4 linked regions of the Homo sapiens genome follow. Changing the gene in region 4 together with the main gene of any one other region gives a genetic interaction. Each region holds a gene or a part of one and is shown on either strand. Other genes may lie near its edges.

Region 1 (3,500 bases), on a different chromosome or scaffold from region 4:
GAATCTAGAAACACGACCCCTTCCCCTCACCCTCCTCAACCTGAAACGCTATCCTGCCTGCATTGCTTTCTGAGTTATGACATCCAATGTCATATAAACACACAAGCTATAGTGTCTCAAGAGGATAGCTTACGCCTCAGAGATGTCCCTTGCCCCCTATACCAGGCCTGGGGGAATCCAACCGTTCGTTTACACTCTATCACCTTTCACTGGGGTTCCCAGAGCTTACTTCACTGAGCTTCGGACTGTAAAGTGTTAGGAAGCTCCCAGGAGTCAGGCTGGGAGGTCTGTGCTAGGGAGAAGGACTACCCGAGCTGTTCTCTGGTCTCTACCAGGCAGTTTCTGCCTGTGTCAAACAGGGTTAACAAGGCATCACTCTCTGGGTAACAGTTTGGAGAAGGTAAAACATTTAGTGGTTAGAGACTATCTGGATACAACCAGAGGTCATAAGAAAAATGTGTGTGGCAGGGGGAAGGTAAAAGAACCCTCAACTGAAAAACCCACGGAGACTGCCTCACCTCAGCATGTTTCCGTGTTTTCAAGTCTCACATCTAGCAAAGCAGAAGGGAGGACCTAATAGCGTCTACCCAGAAATGGAGCCAGGCACCTAAACGAGAACTGCAGCCCCTTCCCCTCCTCGGTCTCCCGAAGGATCTTACCAAGGACACGTCATCCAGGATGAGCCCAAAGGTGGCGGCTCGCTCTGTAAGGTCGTCGCTCACCTGCCTGGAGACCAGCTCTCTCTGGGTGATTAGTTCTCCAGCATCAAAGCGAGCCTGGTTTCAAAGGGAGGAGCAGAAGGGCAGGTCAGGTTAATGAGGAAGCAGAAAAGGAACCAGGAAACTAGCAGCCACATCCCAACCAACCCACTGCCAAGCGCTTCCTGCCACCTGGCACCCTCCCAGGGTGGTGCTCTGGGCTCGAGGCTAAAGGCCCCTGTTCACTCACCACCACTGACTTGAGGATCTCAGTTGTGATGGACGGCAGCACACGCTCATCATAGTCCTCTCCGATGCTGGTGAAGATGCGAGGAAGCTGGCTGGCGACAGGCCGGAAGAGGATGCGCAGTGTGATGTTGACATTCTGTAAATCTTAGGGTAGGGGACAAACACTGGAGTTAAAAATAAAAACCACTGTAGGAAAACAAGTGTTTTTTTTTTGTTTTTTTTTTTTTTTGAGACAGGTTTTTGCTCTTGTTGCCTAGGCTGGAGTACAATGGGACAATCTCGGCTCACTACAACCTCTGCCTCCCAGATTCAAGCAATTCTCCTGCCTCAGCCTCCTGAGTAGCTGGGATTACAGGCACGCGCCGCCACACCCAGCTGTTTTGTATTTTTAGTAGAGACAGGGTGTCACCATGTTAGGCTGGTCTCAAACTCCTGACCTCAGGTGATCTACCTGCCTCAGCCTCCCAAAGTGCTGGGATTACAGGTGTGAGCCACCGCACCTGGCCACAAGTGGTCTTTTATATGACCTCTCCTACTCCAATTTGCTACAATTTTTATTTATGTATTTTGAGACAGGGTCACATGTTGCCCAGGCTGAAGTGCAGTGGTAAGATCACAGCTCACTGTAGCCGCTTTGACCTCCTGGGCTCAGTTGATCCTCCCACCTACACCTTCCAAGTAGCTGGGACTACACAGGCACAGACCACCACGCCCAGCTAATCTCTGTACTTTTTGTAGAGCTGGGGTTTCGCCATATTTCCCAGGCTGGTCTCAAACTCCTGGGCTCAAGTGATCCAACTGCCTCAGCCTCCCAAAATGCTAGAATTACAGGTGTGAGCCATTACGCCTGGCAATTTTTATTTTTTATTTTTAGAGACAAGGTCTTGCTATGTGGCCCAGGCTAGACTCAAGCTCCTGAGCTTAAGCATTTCTCCTGCCTCAGCCTCTTGAGTAGCTGACACGCACCACTGTGCCTGGCTCCAAATTTGCTACAATTTATAAGCAAATCTGCTGATTATAAGATCCCAGAGGGCAAGGTGCAGGTATGCCTGGTTTCCTTGGCAGAGAACCCAATAGAGCATCATAAAGAGTTTATAATTTCTTAAGAGGCTTCAGTGATAGCAGCTTTTTGGTATCCCCTGAATGCCCTCAGATATACATAATTCAGATTATATGTCTAACAGGTGCCATGCAAAGTTTGCAACACTGAACATTTTAAGACAATAGACAGGGCAATGCTAAGAATTGTAGGGTGAGGCCTTTACATGCTCTGGTGATTGTGGCCAAGTCAGGAGTCAGCCTTGGAGAGGTTAGTTCGGGTCTGGTGGAAACGGTGTTAGACTATCAGTCCAAAGATCTGGGCTATTTACTAATGATGTGGCCTCTCTAAGCCTTAGCCAACCTGAGCTTATTTCCCTGTCTATGAGAATGGGGACAATTTCATTTGCTTTCTGGGCCTTGCGGAAATGTTGGGGAAAATTGAAGGAGAAAACAGACGTAAAAGCACTCTGTCAAATGTGTAACACATATAAGGGGTTAACAGACTGATCCTATGTTCTGCTTCTCATTACTTGGACCATTTAAAGGATCCAGGGAGAGAATTATACTTTCCCCTGGACAATTCAGGCCTGCCTGGAGCCAAAGCACTGTCACGGCTTGCTTACAGATGTCAACAATATGGACCAAGCGCCCATGAGACAGCCCTGAACTGGGCACCAAGAGAGGTGGGCAATGTATTAATACCTACAACTCCCTGATCTCTGGAAGCTCCTATCAATAGTTTTAGAAATAGGTACATAATGTATCCTGAAAACAACTGCAAAACAGTACGGAAAGAAATTCCAAAGAGATGGGAAGATTAGAAGCAGGCTTTTTTTTTTTTTTTTTTTGAGACAGAGTCTCACTCTGTTGCCCAGGCTGCAGTGAAGTGGCACAATCTTAGCTCACTGCAACCTCCGCCCCCCAGGCTCAAGCAATTCTCCTGCCTCAGCCTCTCAAGTAGCTGGGATTACAGGCACCCCCCACCACCGGCTAATTTTTGTATTTTTAGGAGAGATGGGGTTTCACCACATTGGCCAGGCTGGTCTTGAACTCCTGACCTCAGGTGATCCACCTGCCTCAGCCTCCCAAAGTGCTGGGATTACAGGCATGAACCACCGCACCCAGCCATAAGTGGGTATTTCTAAGATTCCATATCAAGCTCTCCAGGGCAAGTAGTCTAGTCATTCCTATGATGTACAGTTCAAACTCTTTTGGATCCTGGTATCCCACAGATGCTCCTGTGACACAGAAGAACAGAGCACCTCTTCCACACTCCCTACTTTACCTGAACCATAGGCAAGACTCACCTTTGCTACCAGTGATGACTGGCACATTACGTGGTCGAGAACGGCAGTCAAAGATAATTGGTTTCTGTACCCACGGGATGAGAAAATGAGTCCCTTCCCCTACCACAATGTCCTGCACTCCACGGAATCGGTCAAAGATGACAGCTCTGTGCCCAGCATCCACTAGGAAGAAAGGACAATGACATGTCATAAAAATCCTCTCATC
Region 2 (3,500 bases), about 120 Mb from region 4:
TACCTGTAATCCCAGCACTTTGGGAGTCCGAGGTGGGCGGATCACCTGAGGTCAGGAGTTGAAGACCAGCCTGACCAACATGGTGAAGCCCCATCTCTACTAAAAACACACACACACACACACACACAAAATTATCCCGGGAGGCGGAGGTTGCAGTGAGCCTAGATTGCACTATTGCACTCCAACCTAGGCAACAAGAGAAAACTCTGTCTCAAAAAAAAAAAAGAAAAAAAAAGGAAAGTTTATTACTGAATGAATCCATAGATGGATAATGCTCTCTCAGGCTGCCTTCTGTCAGTATCCTGCTATAACCACAATGTGCTCAAGAAAAAAATATTAGCAGGAGCCAAACAGACTTAGGAAAGTCACATAATCGTGTTGCTTTTTTGGTAGTTTTTTCCAGTAGTAAATTAGGGATGGAATTATTATAAATGTGTACATTTGTTAAACAGACATTATTGAGATATTTATAGATTAAAAAAAATTTTTTTTTGAGACGGAGTTTCGCTCTTGTTGCACAGGCTGGAGTGCGATGGCATGATCTCGGCTCACCGCAACCTCTGGCTCCCATGTTCAAGCAATTCTCCTGCCTCAGCCTCCTGAGTAGCTGGGATTACAGGCATGTGCCACCACGCCTGGCTAATTTTGTATTTTTAGTAGAGATGGGGTTTCTCCATGTTGGTCAGGCTGGTCTCAAACTCCTGACCTCAGGTGATTCTGCCCGCCTCAGCCTCCCAAAGTGCTGGGATTACAGGCGTGAGCCACCACGCCCGGCCTGGCTAATTTTTTTTTTTTTTTTTTTGAGACAGAGCATCACTCTGTCGCTCAGACTGGAGCGCAGTGGCGCGATCTTGGCTCACTGCAACCTCCACCTCCTAGGTTCAAGCGATTCTCCTGCCTCAGCCTCCCAAGTAGCTGGGACTTACAGGCGCGAGCCACCACGCCCAGCTATTTTTTTTTTTTTTTAAGATGGAGTCTTGCTCTGTCGCCCAGGCTGGAGTGCAAGTGGCATGATCTCAGCTCACTGAAAGCTCCGCCTCCCGGGTTCATGCCATTCTCCTACCTCAGACTCCCGAGTAGCTGGGACTATCGGCGTCCGCCACCATGCCCGGCTAATTTTTTGTATTTTTTAGTAGAGACGGGTTTTCACCATGTTAGCCAGGATGGTCTCCATCTCCTGACCTCATGATCCGCCCCCCTCAGCCTCCCAAAGTGCTGGGATTACAGGCATGAGCCACCGCGCCTGGCCTGAGATATTTATATATTCTAACATAATACATTATTCTAAAATCGTAAGAGTTTATGTAGAAAAACTTTTGCTAACTTTTTGTGTGCTTTTAAATTTTTTTGTAGAGATGGGATCTCACCATCTTGCCCAAGCTGGTCTTGAACTCCTGGGCTCAAGCAACCCTCCTGTTTCACCCTCCCAAAGTGCTGGGTTTACAGGTGTGAGCCACCACACCTGGCCCTTTTGATAACTTAAAAAAATTTTTTTGGAGACAAGTTCTTGCCCTGTCACTCAGGCTGGAGTACAGTGATGTGATCATGGCTTACTGAAGCCTCAATTCCTAGGCTCAAGTGATCCTACCACCTCAGCAGCCTCCTAAGTAGCTGGGACTACAGGCATGCACTACCACACCTGGCAAATTTTTTTATTTTTAGTAGAGACAAGGTCACACTATGTTTATAGATTTTTGTATTTATTATTTTTTTTTAGAGAACAGGGTCTCGCTATAGTGGTCAGACAGGTCTCCCTAAGTGCTGGGATTACAGGCGTGAGCCACCACACCAGGCCACTTTTTAAAAATTAAAAATAGGCCAGGTGTGGTGGCTCACGCCTGTAATCCCACCACTTTGGGAGGCCAAAGTGGGCAGATCATCTGAGGTCAGGAGTTCCAGGCCAGCCTGGCCAACAGCGCAAAACCCTGTCTCCAGTAAAAAATATAAAAATTAGCTGGGCATGGTGGCGCGCACCTGTAATCCCAGCTACTCAGGAGACTGAGGCAGGGAGAATCGCTTGAACCCAGGAGGCAGAGGTTGTTGCAGTGAGCCGAGATCACACCACTGCACTGAAGCCTGGGTGACAGAGCAAGACTCCATCTCAAAAAAAAATAATTAATTAAAATTAAAATTAAAAATAGAGTTGCAGGCCAGGTGTGGTGGCTCACACCTATAAACCAGCACTTAGGGAGGCAGAGGCAGGAAGATAGCATGAGCCTAGGAATTTGAGATCCGCCTGGGCAATATAGCAAGACCCTCTTCTCTAAAAAAAATTTAATAAGTAAGTACAAAAATAAATAATAAGTAAAAAAATAAAAAGAGAATTGCAAACATTTTTCAAAGGTTTCTATTACAATAAATCTGTCTCAGAATCTTTTTTTTTTTTTTTTTTGAGACAGGGTCTCCCTCTGTCTCCCAGGCTTGGAGTGGAGTGGTGTGATCTTGGCTCACTGCAGATTCGACCTCCTGGGCTCAAGTGATCCTCCCACCTCAACCTCCCGAGTAGCTGGGACCATAGGCATGCACCACCGTGCCTAATTTTTAAAAATTTTTTGTAAAGACATGGTTTTGCCATGTTGCTCAGGCGGGTCTTGAACTCCTGGAGCTTAATGGATCTGGCTGCCTTGGCCTCCCAAAGTGCTGAGATTACAGGCGTGAGCCATCACACCCGGCACACAAAATCTTAAATAATGATACCAAAGGCAGATTTAAATGATTTTTGAGTTACCCTTTAGTTTGAACTCAACACGTTCTATTTCTTTTTATTATAGGGTATGTCTATATGCCACAGACATACATATAACTGCAGAACTGACAATATTTTGTGTTGTTTTTCTATATCTAATATGACCTATCAATTATGATTAGCCTATGAGATCCCTGAAAGCAAAAACTCTTTCTTTTTTGAGACGGAGTCTGGCTCTGTCGCTCAGGCTGGAGTGCAGTGGCACGATCTCGGCTCACTGCAACCACCACCTTCCAGGTTCAAGTGATTCTCCCGCCTCAGCCTCCCAAGTAGCTGGGATTACAGGCACTTGCCACCACGCCCAGCTAATTTTTATATTTTTAGTAGAGACGGGGTTTTGCCATGTTGTCCAGGCTGGTCTCAAAATCCTGATCTCAGGTGATCCGCCCGCCTTGGCCTCCCAAAGTGCTGGGATTACAGGCATGAGCCACCATGCCCAGCCAGCAAAAACTCTTTCTTCCTCTCTTTATATCTCACTCATCAGAGCCCAGCATGGTACATGATAGGTAGCAATTTAATTTCCTTGTGCTTACTTGGATAAGATATGATGGTCGACAAGGATGAGGGTGAGTTGGCCAGCCTGGTATAATGCATGGAGGTCAATCTCATCCCGAAAAATCAAGATACTCTCTGGAATATGAACCTTCTGAAGAAAGAAGACAATGTCACCTCGCAGAGGTAGTTCAGAACGTTTTATATTTAAAACTGGCACAAAGACTTCCTCAGCCTCAGTTGTCTAGATAGGAAAGTGAAA
Region 3 (3,500 bases), on a different chromosome or scaffold from region 4:
AAAAAAGGCCGGGCGCGGTGGCTCACGCCTGTAATCCCAGCACTTTGGGAGGCTGAGGCGGGTGGATCACGAGGTCAGGAGATCGAGACCATCCTGGCTAACATGGTGAAACCCCATCTCTACTAAAAGTTAGCCAGGCGTGGTGGCGGGCGCCTGTAGTCCCAGGTACTCGGGAGCCTGAGGCAGGAGAATGGCGTGAACCCGGGAGGTTGCAGTGAGCCGAGATCACGCCACTGCACCCAGCCTGGGCGACAGAGCAAGACTCCGTTTCAAAAAAAAAAAATTAGCTGGGCATGGTGGCACGTGCCTGTAGTCTCAGCTACTAGGGAGGCTGAGGTGGGAGGATCGCTTCAGCCCAGGAAGTCGAGGCTGCAGTGAGCTGTGATCGCACCACCGCACTCCAGTCTGGTCAACAGATTGAGACCCTGTCTCAAAAAAGAAAAAACAAAAACAAGTCTACCTGCCTGGCTCGCTCCAGATTCTGTAAAGTGATGCCCTGCTATGAACTTGATTCAGGATCTGTATGCGGTTCCCCAGCACCCTCTGCGGGTCCTGGGTGCCAAGTGTCAGGAATTCAACCTCAAAGGGCCCGCCCTTTCCCCAAGACAGAGCCAGGCTCCTTAGCCTGGCATTCAAGGCCCCCACTCTGGCGCTAACGCTGTCCCTCGCCCAGCCCATCTACCCGGGCTCCTCTCCTCTTTCTGTGGAGGACTCCCTGCCCTCCCCAGGGCCTCTCACTCCAGAACTAGCGGAGTCCCCTCACCCTCACCGGGCGGCGGACTCCGCCCTTACTCCTGGGCTTACTTGTACCTGGCCAGGATGCCCCGCCCAAGCACCGCCTCTAGCGCGGCTGGTCCCGCCCCAAGGACGCCCCTTTGCTCCAGGCCCCGCCCCGGGGTCCCGCCTCCACCACTCGGGCCAGGACCTGGGGCCCAGCCCCGCCCCGCGCCCCGCCCACCTGGAGCCCGTAGTCGCGCGCCGCCTCCCACACGAACTTCTTGCTGACGCCGCCAGCGCCGACCACCAGCAGCTGTTTTCCCTCCATGAGGCAGCGCGCCGACCGCCGAAGCATGGTCTCCACCAGCGGCGCCGCCACCGCCTCGTCGGCCGCCGGCCCCAGCCGCGGCGCGGCCCACAGCCCCTCCAGCGCGCCGCACGCCTCCAGACACAGGCCGCCGTTCAGCTCCAGGGCCACTGGGGTCAGCACGCCGCCGGCCGCTGTCAGCGCGAAATCCACGCCTGCGCCGGGCGGGAGGCGCGAGCTCAGCTACGGCAGCCACCGCCCTCCAGCCCCTGGCCCTCGGCTCCCGGCCCCGGCCCCGGCCGCCCTCACTCACCCAGGAAGTCCGTGTGCGCCCGGCGCCCGCCGCGCTGCTCGGCACTCAGGCCGGCCTCCAGAGCCAGCACGGCGGCCAGCGCGGCCTCGGCCGCCGCCTTGACGCGCTGCCGCACAGCCGCCACCTGCGCCTCCTCGCCCAGGCCGCACTGGGCCAGCGCCACCTCCAGCGTCCTCGGCAGGGAGTTGTGGTGCCGTAGAGGGCGGTCCCCGCGGCCCACGCCGCACACCACCTGGGCAGGGGGAGACTCAGGGGGAGGCCCACACACTCCCTGCCCCCCACGCACACCCCCACCGCCTTGTGCCAAAATTCAGACCAGACCCCTCACTGGACATTCAAGAAGCCCCGTCCTCCAACGTGTCTTAAATTGCACACGAGCTCTCCCTGCCACTCCCCATCTGGTCCCCAGACCTCTCCAGGGATTCTACCTACCCAGGCTTCCAGGCCCAGCTGGGGTCCCCCTCCAGGATGGCTCCTGCAGCCCTGGGGGCCTGGGCCACCCTGGTGTGCCCCACCCTAGCATCTCCCTGGGGCGCACCTTTCCCTACCCCACTGGAGCTCCCTGAGGGCAGGGTCGAATCTCTCCCTCTCAGTGTAGCCTAGAGCGGGGTACTCAGGAGGGTCCGTAAGCCTTCCTGACTCTCCAGCTTAGAGGCCCCTCCTGAAGGCGTCCAGGCACTAGAGGTTTATCAGGAGGCCCTGGGTCAGCCTCTACGTGGGCAAGAGCTCTCTGGGAAGACAATTCAGCCCCCTGGGCCCTGGTACTACCCAGCGTGGGGCTGAGCACAGGGGCAGGGGCTCTTGGTGTGGGAGGGATTCTGGAAGGGTTGCAGGAGAGGGAAGACGGTCAGACCCAGTAGTTTCCCCAGAGGCAACTACGACCCCCCTAAGGATTTTGTCCTCTCTGCCCAGAGACGGCTCAGGGGCCCTTGGCAAACCACTACTGGGACTGGGCTGGCGTGTGGCAGGCAGGGTCACAGCCTGGGCCTGGGCCACGCTCACCTTGCTCAGCAGTGGCCTATCACCCTGTGTCCGACACACCACAGCACAGATTCGCACGGCCAGGCCGGGGCCGGGTGAAGGACCATCTGGGGGAAGACGGGGAGGTCTAAGGCCAGCACAGAGTGGCCAGAAGGCCACACCAAACTCCCATCCCTGGTCAGCCCAGGTGGCTCTCACCTGAGCAGGGCAGCTGGGCAGGTGGGTACACAGCCTCCACCAGGACACTCTCCTCCTCCTCCAGCTTCTCCAGCAGCGCCAGCACTGTGTCCACCACTGCACCCAGCTCTGCCCGCGGGTGCAGACGCCATGCCTGCCGCCCCCGCCAGCGCCAGCCACTGAGCTTCACAGCTACCTGCAGCAAGGAGGGGAAAGGGGCCTCCTGGACACCACCCCAGGTACTGCAGGGTGGGGCACTTCCGCCACAGGAGCCGGTGAGTAAACTGAGGCAAAAGGGCAGGGGATTGCCCCAGAGATGGGGCAGGGCAGCGGCAGGGCTAAGAGGTAGGGACACCTTTCCAGCCAGACTTGGTAACCGTGCCTGGGTCCCATCCTGCTGGCATCTGTACAGACCTCAGGGTGGGCGAGAGTCTGTTACCTGCAGGATATCACCCAGGGCCTCGGAGCGCAGAAAAGCCTCCACTTCCTCTTTCACCAGCGTCTCCTGGCCCTCTTTGCCACTCAGCTCCACCAGCCGTAGCCCTAGGCTGGCATCCCCTCCCCGCAGCAGCCCCGGCGGCTTGTAGGTGAAAGCCAGGGTTGCTGGCACAGCCACACCACCCTGCTGGGCCAGCAACTGCCTTGTCAGCAGCCGGTCCTCCAGCAGCCGGGCCAGCTCAGCCGAAGCTCCTGTGGGGCAGGTCAGGTCACGGGCGAGTTCTGCTGCCTCTCGGCCCCGGCCAGGCCCCAGGCCCAGGCCTGCCAAAAAGTAGGTGGCACGGCGCGGGGGGACAAAGTCATCCAGGAATGTCAGGCCCCCAGGGTGGAAGCTCACAGCCTTGGAGACTAGCAGGGCTGCCTCACCCGGCTGCCCGGGTGCTGGCACCTTCATCAGCCAAGCAGGGGACAGGCAAAGGAGCATGTTTCCTGTGGGCAGAGAAGGCAAGTGGCTGGCCAGGGAAGGCTTGATGCCCTATGCCCGGGCCCCCGGGTAGCGGAGTGGAA
Region 4 (3,295 bases):
TGTTTTTTTGTTTTTTTAATAGAGACGAGGTCTCACTATGTTGCCGAGGTTCATGAACTCCTGAGTTCAAGTGATCCTCCCAAAGTGCTAGGATTACAGGCATGAGCCACCAGGCCCAGCCTGAATCTGTGGTCAAATTTTTATCAGTGAGCAGAGTATGTTTTTTCCATTTTTCCCTTTCTTCTCTGAACAGTAGGGGCCTTTGTTGATCCCAGTTTTCCTTAGATGTAGAGTGGATGGGGGATTTGATTGTTTAACAATATTCTTTTTTTTTTTTTTTTGACTGAGTCTCTCTGTCGCCCAGGCTGGAGTGCAGTGGCGCTATCACAGCTCACTGCAACTTCCGCCTCCTGGGTACATGCCATTCTCCTGCCTCAGCCTCCCAAGTAGCTGGGACTACAGGCGCCCGCCACCACGCTCGGCTAATTTTTTGTATTTTTAGTAGAGACGGGGTTTCACCGTGTTAGCCAGGATGGTCTCGATCTCCTGACCTCGTGATCCAGCCGCCTCAGCCTCCCAAAGTGCTGGGATTACAGGCGTGAGCAACCGCGCCCGGCCCTACAATATTCTTACAAAGCTGATTCTTCAGACCCACCCTCCATAGGATGTGCACACTAGTGGAGGTGCTGGAAAGAGTTTGTGCTGCATCATCCTACTCTTTTTCTTTTGATCATCTTTAGTACCTACCAACCTGTATATCAAGGAGCTGACTTATTAATAGTTACCATTTATCGTGCTCTTATTTTGTGCCAGGTCCTTAATATTTTGTTTCATGTCATCCTAGCAACAGCCCTCAGAGGTAGGAGGTATGGCCATTTAGGGATGAGTAAATAGGCTCAGTCTTATCCTTGTTGAGGTTCACATAGCTGTCAGTAGAATCTATCTGATTCCTAAGCCTGATTTTATTTCCATTGCATAATATTGCCTACCATGAGAAAGGAAAAATTTTGATAGAGCAATTTTCATATGCCAGGTATTTGACATCTCCCATTTACACCTCAGAACAACCCTGTAAAGTTTAGGAATTTTTATCATTTTATACAGCTACTTCCTGGAAAAGCCAGAATTTTTTTTTTAAGAGACTCTGGCACCTAGGCTGGAGTGTAGTAGTGCCCTCATGGCTCACTGCAGCCTCAAACTCCTGGGCTCAAGCGATCCTCTTGCCTCAGTCTCCTGAGTAGCTGGGACTACAGGCAAATGCCACCATGTCCAGCTATTTATTTATTTTGAGACAGGGTCTCCATTACTCAAGCTAGAGTGCAGTGGTGCAATCACAGCTCACTGCAGTCTCAACTTCCGAGGCTCAGGTGATCCTCCCACCTCAGCTTCCCAAGTGGCTGGGACTACAGGTGCGTGCAAACATGCTCATGCTCAGCTAATTTTTTTTTTTTTTTTTTTTGAGAGATGAGGCTTCACCATGTTGCCCAGGCTGATTTCAAACTCCTGGGCTCAAGTGATTGACCTACCTCAGCCTCTCAAAGTACTAGGATTACAGGTGTGAGCCACCGTTCCAGGCCCCGGATAACTTCTTTATTTTTTTATAGAGGCAGGGTCTCACTGTGTTGCCCAGGCTGGTCTCAAACTCCTAGGCTCAAGTGATTCTCCCACTTCAACCTTCCAAAGTGTTGGGATTACTGGCTGGGTGCAGTGGCTCACGCCTGTAATCCCAGCACTTCAGGAGGCCGAGGCAGGAGGATCATTTGAGGTCAGGAGTTTGAGGCCAGCTGGCCAACATGGTGAAACTCCATCTCTACTAAAACTATAAAAATTAGGCTGGGCGCAGTGGCTCACGCCAGTAATCCTAGCACTTTGGGAGGCCAAGGTGGGTGGATCACTTGAGGTTAGGAGTTCAAGACCATCCTGGCCAATATGGTGAAACTCCATCTCCACCAAAAATATAAAAATTAGCCGGGCCTGGTGGCACACACCTCTAATCCCAGCTACTTGGGAGGCAGAGGCAGAAGAATCACTTTGAACCCAGGAGGCAGAGGTTGCAGTGAGCTGAGATCGTGCCACTGCACTCCAGCCTGGGCAACAGAGCGGGACTCTGTCTCAAAAAAAAAAAAAAAAAAATACACACACACACACTCTCACACACTAGCCCGATGTGGTGGCAGGCGCCTGTAATCCCAGCTACTTGGGAGGCTAAGGCAGGAGAAAAATCGCTTGAACCCAGGAGGCGGAGGCTGCAGCCAACTGAGATCACACCACTGTACTCCAGCCTGGATGACAGAGTGAGACTTCATCTCAAAAAAAAAAAAAAGTGTTGGGATTACAGGTGTGAGCCACTGCTTCCAGCCCCTAGATCTAATTCGAAAGCCCTTATTTTTTTTTCCATCTGCTCTACTGTTCAGCCAAAGATTGTGACTGGAGAGGAGTGTTTTCTTCTAGAGGTAAATAAATGGCCTATATATTATCCAAGGTGGAATTTGGGTCTCTGTAGCACCAGCTTGGACCAGTGTTTGGAGAGCTGAAGCCTCGTCCCACTCCTTATGCTGCAAGATCCATGGAGTTCCAGCCCCCTGGACTTGTGGGGAGCTTGGAGAAGAGAGCCATGAACATCTGCCCACATGGCATTCTCTTCTCTTAGCTTAAGTCACCATGCCTAAGCTTGGGTTCCACTTGGCAGTGAGATGGAGAGAGTGTCCTAAAAGAGATAATGGCAATGACCACCAGGTTGAAAACTGGCCTGGTGAAGAAAAGCAGAAGATTAATTGGGAAAAGAGAAGGCTAAGAGATGATTGGCCCTGGTGGGTGAGGTGCAAAGCTGTTGGCTAGTGTTCCTGGAGATAGGCTTACGTGAAGGTAGGTTGGGCAGAAGAAAGAACTTTGTGTTGGGCATAGAAGAGATTAAGATGAACAATTTGCTCTGTGGAGAACCTTTGGGAAAGGAGCAACTCTGCCTCTCCCAACTGATACAGAAGACTTGGGGAGGTCTCTCAAGTCAATAATTCTGTTCTTAGGCCACTTTTCTCCCTTAATTTATTTCCTGTTCTTTCTCTTTTTAGCTCCCAGGGTTGCTAGAGCTCCTTGTAGAATATTTCCGACGATGCCTGATTGAGATCTTTGGCATTTTAAAGGAGTATGAGGTGGGTGACCCAGGACAGAGAACGCTACTGGATCCTGGGAGGTTCAGCAAGGTGTCTAGTCCAGCTCCCATGGAGGGTGGGGAAGAAGAAGAAGAACTTCTAGGTCCTAAACTAGAAGAGGAAGAAGAAGAGGAAGTAGTTGAAAATGATGAGGAGATAGCCTTTTCAGGCAAGGACAAGCCAGCTTCAGAGAATAGTGAGGAGAA

What was found.
Region 1: changes in ARID1A (region 4) and PHB1 together harm fitness more than expected from each alone (negative genetic interaction), as found in Homo sapiens cells (one large-scale study listed by BioGRID).
Region 2: changes in ARID1A (region 4) and PRUNE1 together harm fitness more than expected from each alone (negative genetic interaction), as found in Homo sapiens cells (one large-scale study listed by BioGRID).
Region 3: changes in ARID1A (region 4) and CARNS1 together harm fitness more than expected from each alone (negative genetic interaction), as found in Homo sapiens cells (one large-scale study listed by BioGRID).

What each region holds. Positions count from the first base shown.
Region 1 is NC_000017.11:49,408,383-49,411,882, forward strand, and holds part of PHB1 (prohibitin 1), read right to left. Parts: intron 3,458-3,500; coding exon 3,296-3,457; intron 1,092-3,295; coding exon 949-1,091; intron 777-948; coding exon 660-776; intron 1-659.
Region 2 is NC_000001.11:151,018,449-151,021,948, reverse strand, and holds part of PRUNE1 (exopolyphosphatase PRUNE1), read right to left. Parts: intron 3,483-3,500; coding exon 3,280-3,482; intron 1-3,279. UniProt on the Homo sapiens protein: Phosphodiesterase (PDE) that has higher activity toward cAMP than cGMP, as substrate. Plays a role in cell proliferation, migration and differentiation, and acts as a negative regulator of NME1. Plays a role in the regulation of neurogenesis.
Region 3 is NC_000011.10:67,418,678-67,422,177, reverse strand, and holds part of CARNS1 (carnosine synthase 1), read right to left. Parts: intron 3,423-3,500; coding exon 2,935-3,422; intron 2,692-2,934; coding exon 2,517-2,691; intron 2,426-2,516; coding exon 2,340-2,425; intron 1,570-2,339; coding exon 1,338-1,569; intron 1,240-1,337; coding exon 959-1,239; intron 1-958. UniProt on the Homo sapiens protein: Catalyzes the synthesis of carnosine and homocarnosine. Carnosine is synthesized more efficiently than homocarnosine.
Region 4 is NC_000001.11:26,776,015-26,779,309, forward strand, and holds part of ARID1A (AT-rich interactive domain-containing protein 1A), read left to right. Parts: intron 1-3,008; coding exon 3,009-3,295. UniProt on the Homo sapiens protein: Involved in transcriptional activation and repression of select genes by chromatin remodeling (alteration of DNA-nucleosome topology).